Linked DNA regions of Homo sapiens: region 2 is linked to region 1. The links come from fine-mapping of genetic effects on plasma protein levels. A gene starts in region 1. The other region holds a variant in brackets. All regions are shown on one strand. Distances are from middle to middle.

Region 1 (4,394 bases):
AGATGTTCATTTACCCCCAGAGAATGAATCACTTTCTCACAGCAAGAACTTCCTTTAGCTTTTGTGGGACCAAGCTCATGCACAATAACAAGATAAAATAGACACGGGACCTAAATTCAGGAACCTTCCTCTCCCTTATTCAACCAAACAGCCAGTCCCCAGAATGACTAAATATTACTTTGTATACAATTAGCCCTAATATCCATGGGTGTGAGGGGCGTCAGATTAAAACAAAACAAAACAAAAAACTCTGCAATTTCTTTCTTTAGCTAACGTGTTGTTTTCCACATATTGAAGTAACTTTAAAGTTCCAGTCTTCTAGCAAGGAGGAGAGCGTTTGCTAATTTCCAAGCATTTGCACTGTTCCACTCACACTCGCTGGGTACAGATTCAAATGGTGGCTGGGCAGCATTAGCAGTGAGTCCACTGTGGCAGAAGCAGCAAAGTCCCTGTCCATCCAGAGATCAGGCCTGAGATCTTAGCAACTTCTGCTCACAGACTGGTGGCTCCAGATGTGGCTACAGGACCTAAACCATGATCTCATGTCTGTATCCAGATCCTATAGGAGCCAAGGCTCTGGAATGAGCAGTGAATGGACAAAAGTTTCCACTGGGCCTGGGCACAATTTCCTCAGGCATCTTCTCAGAAAGAGAGCTCTGCCCACCCTACATTTCAAACCACAGAGCAGCACTGGACTGGAAAACCAGAAGCCACGGGATGATTTGAAATCATTTGTTCTATTTTCCCTCCTTCGGGAGTCAGCTGCAGCCTATAAACTGGGGACAAAGCAGTACTTAGAGTTGTATGAAAGAATGCCAGGTGCCTTCTTCCCTTCTCTCCTGGAAAAATGATACCAGTATTGATACTCTATTTTTTCCTGTGTCTGACACTGTCACCTTGATTCTGAGTCTGCAACAAATGTCTGAATGTCAAGAGGCCAGCTGCCAATACGTAGCCCTGACCGAGCAAGGTATCATCTGATGCCTTGGTGACACCTCAGCTTTTCCAAGAACCAGTGGATTTTAGGCACTGTGGCTAACCTGTGTCCCAATGTGGGCAGTTTGTTACTTTTATGTTGGAACTTGTTCTTTTTTTTAATGCTTATATAAGCAACACAGGTTTCATGCTTTTAAGTGAAGCCCTGCCTGTTCTCATTCATTCTTTCTCCATCCTTCCCCCAGATCTCTCCCAAGCACAAAAATTAATAAATAAGTAAAAAGTAAGACCTCCAAAAACTAGTTTTTTTTGTTTGTTTGCTTTGTTTTGTTTTTGTTTTTTAGATGGAGTTTTGCTCTTGTTGCCCAGGCTGGAGTGCAATGGTTCAATCTCGGCTCACCGCAACCTCCACCTCCCAGGTTCAAGCAATTCTCCTGCCTCAGCCTCCCAAGTAGCTGGGATTATAGGCATGCGCCACCACGCCCGGCTAATTTTTTGTATTTTTAGTAGAGACGGAGTTTCTCCATGTTGGTCAGGCTGGTCTCGAACTCTCGACCTCAGGTGATCCACCTGCCTCAGCCTCTCAAAGTGCTGGGATTACAGGCATGAGCCACCATGCCCGGCCAACCACATCATTTTTTTAGATGTCTTGAAATGTTTTCTTTGAGGTATTGTGAGGGTAATAGTATGGGGATTTCGAGAGAAGTTGTCGTCTTAACAAATAATAATTAAAACCTGTAAAATTAAATGTCTGGAGATACTTCAAAGCTGTTCAAATGTGTTTGCAAACATCCCCTTAACTGATTCACACAAAATCCAGACAAAGGGAAAGTTATCATAGCTTCCTAATCATAACTAAAATAACAATTCTGTTTTAGGATTTAAAAGAATAATGAAATACAACAATACTAAATTATCCAAAAAAAGACAGAGAGAGAGAAAGCTTTGACATTGTAAGTAAGTTAAAAAGAAAAAAAAATGAGAAGGAACATCTTAAAGGAAACATTTTATACAAAAATGTGTTACGCCAGGTAGAAGCTGATACAACACAGACGCATCTGTGTTGCAGGAAAGAGGATAACTATGCTTAGCCCTGTCTGAGACTGGAGTATAATACTAAGGATGCAGTACACGGGTCCTGAGAGGTACTTCCCAATTCATTTTAACTCTTCATGGAGGTGATAGGAGACTAATTACACTGCCCGGATTTTCAGGCTCGGGAACGGAGGCACCTGAGCCACCACTTTTGAGCTCATCTGCATTGGCCACCTCCCTCCCTCCAGTAAGTAAAGCTTGGGCAACTGGCACTCTTACCTGGGAGGCTGCTGGGTGCCTCTTCCAATGCTGCTGCTCCTGTGAGCCGGTCTCCTCCTGCCGCAGACCTTGGTACTTGCTGGTCGTCCCTGGTTCTCGTCTCTCCTTGGCTTCCCTTCCTGGGTTTAAATCCTGTCTAGGCCAGAGGAGGAGCAAATGGAGACTCCTGGTGTTTTCCTCCCTTCCTAGCAGGGACTCTGCTAAAAGATAATGAGCAATTCCTTCTCTTATTCTAACTAGGAAAGAAAAATATATACATTTCCTTCTTCTTTTTCACTTTGATTACACAGCAGCTAAAAATACTGGAGGCTGTTTCCATTTAAGTGAATCCAGAATAAGGATATTAAAAGAGTTTGCCTGTCTCCTGGCCAGGAGCTGGGTCTCGGGGTTCAAAAGTGCATTTATAAAGTTTCTTTCTCTTTTTCCTGTTTCAGGCATTCTGGGACTTCCTGCCTACTGCTTTTAAAATGGGAAAAAGCCTTTAGCACAGAAAGAAATGAGCAGAGACCCTCAGGGACAGAAGCTCTTCTGACTTCCCTCCTCCTTCATCCATCGTCTCACACTTGTGAGTGGCAGGACTCTGAAGTGGGGGCAGGAATAACAGACTGGGGACATTCGGTCCCACAAGCCCACTCTGACCCTCACCCCATCCCAAATGCCTCCCACACGCCAACAGTACAAGAGCTCCAAAATCAGGAAAGAATAGTCGTGCCCCTTTCTGGCTGCCCTTCCTCTTTTGCCCTCAGATGGACAGGCCTTCATCCTTCCTATGAACCAGAGTCATTTCAATAGGGCATGGGCTGACACCTGCCACCCTTCCTTACACCCCATCCCTCTCCTGCTCTGTGGGAAGTAGATTCTGGAGTGCAGATCCACAACAAAATGAAGGAGACCATATGTTTCCAGTTCACCTATGTCAGCATCAAATGCTGCTGGAGGGAAAGGAGAAGGAGAGACGGGGGACCAAAAAGTGGCCCCCAGAAATTGGAGGGGGGTTCCCAGAGGCAGCTTGCCTGGATCTGAAGCTTGTGTCTGCTACTTGCAAATGACCTTTGACAACTTCTTTGTGGCTCAGCTTACTCGTCTGTAAAATAGGAATAGTGTCTTATGGTTATTGTGAGGTTCAAATGAGTAGATGGGGTAAAGAACTTAGACTAGTCCCAAGACACAATGAGGACTTGGTAAAGATTACCTGCTACCATGATTATTATAACTTTTTAATTCTCCTTATGTATCCCACTAAATCATATTTGATCCTCTCCACCTCAGTCCAGGTAGGTTCATAGTTCTCTGCCCTTCACTTACAACCACAAATAATCCTGCTATCTGGCCCTGGAATCTGGGCCAGCCATATACAGAGGTGACCAGTGCAGTAGGAACCAGGGTCACCAGAAAATTTCCCAACTCCCAAACATCTCTTTTCTCCCTTGGACTATTTTCTCTGCTTCTTAAAAGGGAAAATCTCTCCCAGAGGATCCTAAGACTCTATTGCGCCCTCAAGTTGCTCTCCTATTCTTAATTTCCTTTCACTAACTCTCCCCAAATGAGTGGTCTTCACCAACTCTCTCCGTGACCCCATTTTCCATGCCCTCAATAGGAATAACTAAACCAGTGCACCAGGCTCCTAAGAAGCCACCTTCCTCCAATCTCTCCTTATTACAGCTGGTATTAGTTAGTTGCAGGACATGGAGCTGTAGCAAAGAGACCCTCCAATGCAGTGACTTAACAACATAGATGATTTCTCCCCAAACAGTAGAAGACAGTGGCCCAGGGCTGGTAGGGCAGTGCCACCATCCACAGCACACACCCACCACTCTCTAGGGTCATCATCTCCCAGCCAACAGGAAGGGTAAAGGGATGAGGGCAGATGGAAGTGCGTGCTCATTCCTTACAAACACAAAAACAAAAACTTTTTATTTTATAATTATTTCAGACTTGCAGAAAAATTGCAAAAATATTAAAAGAATCCCTGTATACCCTTCACTCATATTCTCCAAGTGTTAACATTTTGTCATATTTGCCAATCATTCATTCTCTCTTAATAGTTTTCCCTGAAAACATTTGAGAGCAAATTAAAGACATGATTTATCTCTTTACCCATTTATGTCTAAAAACTTTAGTATAGGGTGTTTCCCAACAACAAG
Region 2 (4,394 bases), 20 kb before region 1:
AGAGATAATATTTACAAAGTCTCACAATATACAGAAGCCCACTAGAATACAGTGATCGCGCAAATGATAGAGATTGTTGCTGTTGTCCAGATGCTAAATGTGTGTGTTGGTGGCTGTGTATGAGACAGGAGTTCTCAATGGTGACAGGAGCTCAGCCTAGGACATGAAGGAGTTTCCAAAGTTTTAGGGGCTAAGCCATTTCAAATGGAACATTGTGTTTGGAAATCAGTAAAAAGTGAAAAAGATATTAAGAAAAGCAAAACTGCTATTTCACAGCATAGTCTAAGGAGGAAAGTTCTGAGAAAATTGATGACAAGTGAATATTCTAGGCTATAACCTTTGCTGTGCATGGGAGCTTGTGAAATTATAACAAAGCAAGCATGCTTTGTTTTATACACACCAGGGAAAAGCATGAAGCTATTAACAGAATACCATCATCATAAGAAAAGAGAAAGGACTTTAAACTCATTTAGTCCAACTCTTCATTTTATAGATAGAGGACAAAAGAATGACATCACCTCTCAGTTAGTAGCCTCCCTTTCTTTTCATTGAATGGGAAGCATAGCTGTCAGGGTATGATGCAGAAGTCCAGGGACATTCCCCTCGCCAATCCCCCAGAGACACTGGCCTGGCGTATGCTTGCTGCTCCTTAAGCTGACCTGCTTCTGAGGCTGGCCTTTCTGGAAGGTGTTCCAGCGCACTTTGAGCATGTTGGGTAACAGGGTGAGGAATTTCAGTCAACCATTTCCCTGTCATGGTGTTAGTTACACTGGGTGCCTCGTTACATGAAAAATCCCTGAACGGTGTCATTTCCTCGTTTCCTCCTGCACATGCTTAGGCTGTTCTTAAGTTCCAGCATCCTTTTCCACCTGGTGGGATGCAAAACGTTTGGAGAAAACAGAGATTCTTCTTTTCCCTTAAATTAATTAACAGTCTAGCCAGGTTTAAGAGTGTTTCCTGACCCTATAAATTACAGTGTCTTTTTCTTTTTGATGCTGGTAAAACACATGACACAAATTTATTTGCAATCCAATAAAATATTCTATCCTGGTTTTAGGATATAATTGACAATAAAAACACTTTTGAGTAACAACATTCCAGTATAGGTGGAAGGCTAACTAGCAATTCAAGGCCATATGTGATTAAATGCTCTCAGACCTCAGAAACAAATCTGGCTGACATTTAATGCGGTCATAGAAGGCTGCAGTGGAGAAACTGTTTGAGCACAGCCTGGAAGGATACGTCACATTATTGCTGTGATCCCCTGAAGGAAAAGGACCATGGCTTATCAGCTCTGGAAATTTCTAAAGGGACCAGGTCTCTTTGGCCCAGATACATCCTGCAATAAATGTTTGTTGAATTAAATTAATTTGTGGCTAGAAATAATGGCAAGGGTTTTCCAGGCTAAGTAACAACAGAAACCCACTTGCAGAGATAAGCTTTCTGTTAGGAAACCCCACAAACAGTCTGGCTACAGGAAGGCTTTCCCTGGGGAAGTAATGAGAATAACAGTGGCCCAGGCTGGGTGGGCCACGGAGGCCAAGATAAAAGCATTATGCTTCCTCCTCAGTCAGTGAGGAATCATAGAAAATTTTTCAGTTAGGAAGCAAACAGTATGAAAATTAACCAGAAATAATGGGCAAGAAGGAGGGGAGGTGTGATGTTATGATTTATAACAAGAAACACATGTTTGGTTTTGGGTCCCTGATTCCTGGCACACAGCTCCTAAAACCCTTGGAATCTCCAAAGTGAGGTGTCTTCTGTATGTTAATGAGATGACTGCTGTAAGGGGTTGAGGGGTGCTCCTGGGTAGCCTCAGAAAGGGGGTGGTTTCCAGGGAACCAACATTGTGATTAGAGGATTGGAACTACCAGCCCCACCTACCCACCCCCCTAACAAGGGGAAGGAGAGAGGCGCTCACAGTTGCTAAAGGTTGAGTTAATCACCAGTGGCCAATGATGTAATCAATCATTCCTATATAATGAGGTCTCCATGAGAACCCAAAAGGACTGGGTTCAGAGTGCTTCCTGGTTGCTGAACAAGTGGAGGTTTGGGGAGGGTGGCACACCCACAGAGGCCATGGAAGCACGTACCTTGACCTATGCATCTCTTCCATCTGGTTCTTCACCTGGATCTTTGTAATATTCTTTATTATACTAAATAGGTAAACGTAAGTAAAGTGTTTCCCTGCGTTCTGTGAGCTGCTCTAGCAAATTAATGGAACTCAAGGAGGGGAGTCATAAGAACCCCCAATTTCTAGCTGATTGGTCAGAAGTACAGGTCCTAACCTGGGGACTGTGACAGGCATCTGAAGTGAGGAAAGTCTTGTGGGACTGGGCCTTTAACTTGTGGGATCTGAGGCTATTTCCAGGGAGACAATGTCAGATATGAATTGAATTATAGAACATCCAGTTTGTGTCCGATGGAAAACTCCCTGGTGTATGGGGAAAAATCACTTCCAGAGGTGAAATGTTCTGTGTTGTGTTGACTGTGTAAGAGAAGAAAAAGTGTTTATCTCTTACAGGAAGGTAAAAGTGGGAAGCACTTTAGCTTTGTAGTTTGAAATGAAAATAAAAAACTCGGGACCCCAATTCACTCTGCCAAAAGGAAAAAATAAAGCTGAAAGCTGAGTTATGCAAGAAGCTGCCTTTCCTTTTGTTCCTACGCCGGATAAAAGGTTAAATATCTCCACAGGTAGCTACTCCACGTTCACCTTATCCTGAGAAAAGTGCAAATGTACTCAACACGTAATTGACTATCCCGCTACCTGCTCCTTTCTCTTCCAACATGGGAATTATACCCTCCCTATTTCCTCTTCAGCCCACTTTTCCCATTTAAATATTGAAGTCCTCAAAATCATCTTTGGAGAAAGGTACAGACCACAGATTGTTTCTGTGATTCCATGTTTCTTTCTCCCAGGCATGTCCTTAACCTTGGAAAAATAAACTTCTAAGTTGATTAAGGCCTATCTCAGATACTTTTTGGTTTGCAGTAGCTAAGCCCAAAGGTTTAGACTTGGGTATCCTGGGTTCAAATCCCAGCTCTGTCCTTTCCTGGCTGGGCAATCTTGAGCTTAACTTCTCCAGTTTTCTTATATGTGGCAGAGAAATAATAATAGTATCTACTTCATTGGATTGCTGTGAGAACTAAATGAGATATTCATAAAAAGTGCTTAGTGATTATAATGCCTGGCACTCAGTAAGCTCTCAATTAATTCACAGCTACAGGGAATGCCACTGGAAGCACAGAAGTACTTACCATTTTCTAACCCATTAAAACAGTTCCCTAGTCCACTATTCAGGCAGACTGTACAGTCTACCTTGTCTAGTTTGTAAATTAAGTTATATGTTCTCCATTATAAATGCCCAACTATAACTGTTTCATACTGCAGATAAGCAATCTGTTAGGCAGCTGAAATAGTGAATTCAATTCTCACAACATCTCACCTCTTATTCTCACCACCATAACCAGCTATTTCCAGGACTGAATTGGAAAGAACTAAAAAACTTTTCAACGAAGACTCAAAACTCAAAGACTCCTTCTTTACCAGCTCCAAGGATTAGTCTCCCCGA[A/G]TGGCACTATGTTCTAGATCACAGGTTTCCAGCATGGGGAAGGCAGGAGCACAGAGTTAATGAGGAAGTTCACAATTCAATATGGGCTCAAGCATGGTTTAAAAACTAAAAGTTACCTAGGATGTCTCGTATGTATGCCTACCATGTTTTCCAATTCTGTTCTGATTAATAAATTACAAACTTATTGTCAAATATGACTGATTTGTAACCTTTTATCATTATATATTTTCTCAATACACAGATGACAACATACCACTACTCCCATGTGAGGGTTTTTAATATCTTTTGACATTTTAGAGGAGTCTACTGAATGTGGGCATCAGGAAAAAACACAGGTGTGGCAAGAAGAAAATTATAGATCACTTGTCTTTAGGGAATAAGGAGCTATGTGCCTATGTCCTAGATAATAAATGCCTTAAAAACAACGCGGTGATAGAAGCTATTAAAATAAGCAGAACGGTGTCAGACAGTCTTGTCCCTTGACTCCAAGACCCTGGGAGAGATTTTCAATGGCAAGAAAAATTTGAAATAGGAAAAGTTTGCTTCCCTTTCCCTGCCCAAAAATAGACATCAGTACATAAAGGGATAGACTCTCTCTACATGTAAATCCCAGAATTCTCTTTTTTTTTTTTTTTTTTTTGAGATGGAGTTTCACTCTTGTTGCCCAGGCTGGAGTGCAATGGCACGATCTCGGCTCACCACAACCTCCACCTCCCGGGCTCAAGCAATTCTCTTGCCTCAGTCTCCCGAGTAGCTGGGATTACAGGCATGCGCCACCACGCCCAGCTTATTTTGTATTTTTAGTAGAGACAGGGTTTCTCC

Which allele goes with the higher level. Positions count from the first base shown, and alleles are read on the strand shown. Strength reflects both the effect of a copy and how common the allele is.
In carriers of allele A in region 2, the plasma level of the protein whose gene starts at base 2,353 in region 1 tends to be higher than with G alone (strong association).

The links. A credible set is the group of variants that fine-mapping cannot tell apart. PIP is the posterior inclusion probability: the model's chance that the variant is causal. The UK Biobank Pharma Proteomics Project read protein levels with antibody pairs (Olink). The fine-mapping took linkage between variants from a reference panel, not from the people measured, so its PIPs are less certain.
Region 2: its variant is the best candidate, but not a certain one, in a credible set for the plasma level of the TNN protein (UK Biobank, PIP 0.57).

The regions. Positions count from the first base shown.
Region 1 is chr1:175,065,792-175,070,185 of GRCh38, reverse strand. TNN (tenascin N) reads right to left here and starts at 2,353. Exons shown (of 19, transcript NM_022093.2): 1 at 2,251-2,353. RefSeq lists an enhancer at 1,833-3,032.
Region 2 is chr1:175,085,693-175,090,086 of GRCh38, reverse strand. The region is part of intron 6 of TNN (tenascin N); the gene reads right to left. Among named protein-coding and RNA genes, the nearest start is that of TNN, 20 kb to the right of the region's middle. The variant A/G (reference allele first, on the strand shown) is at 3,573.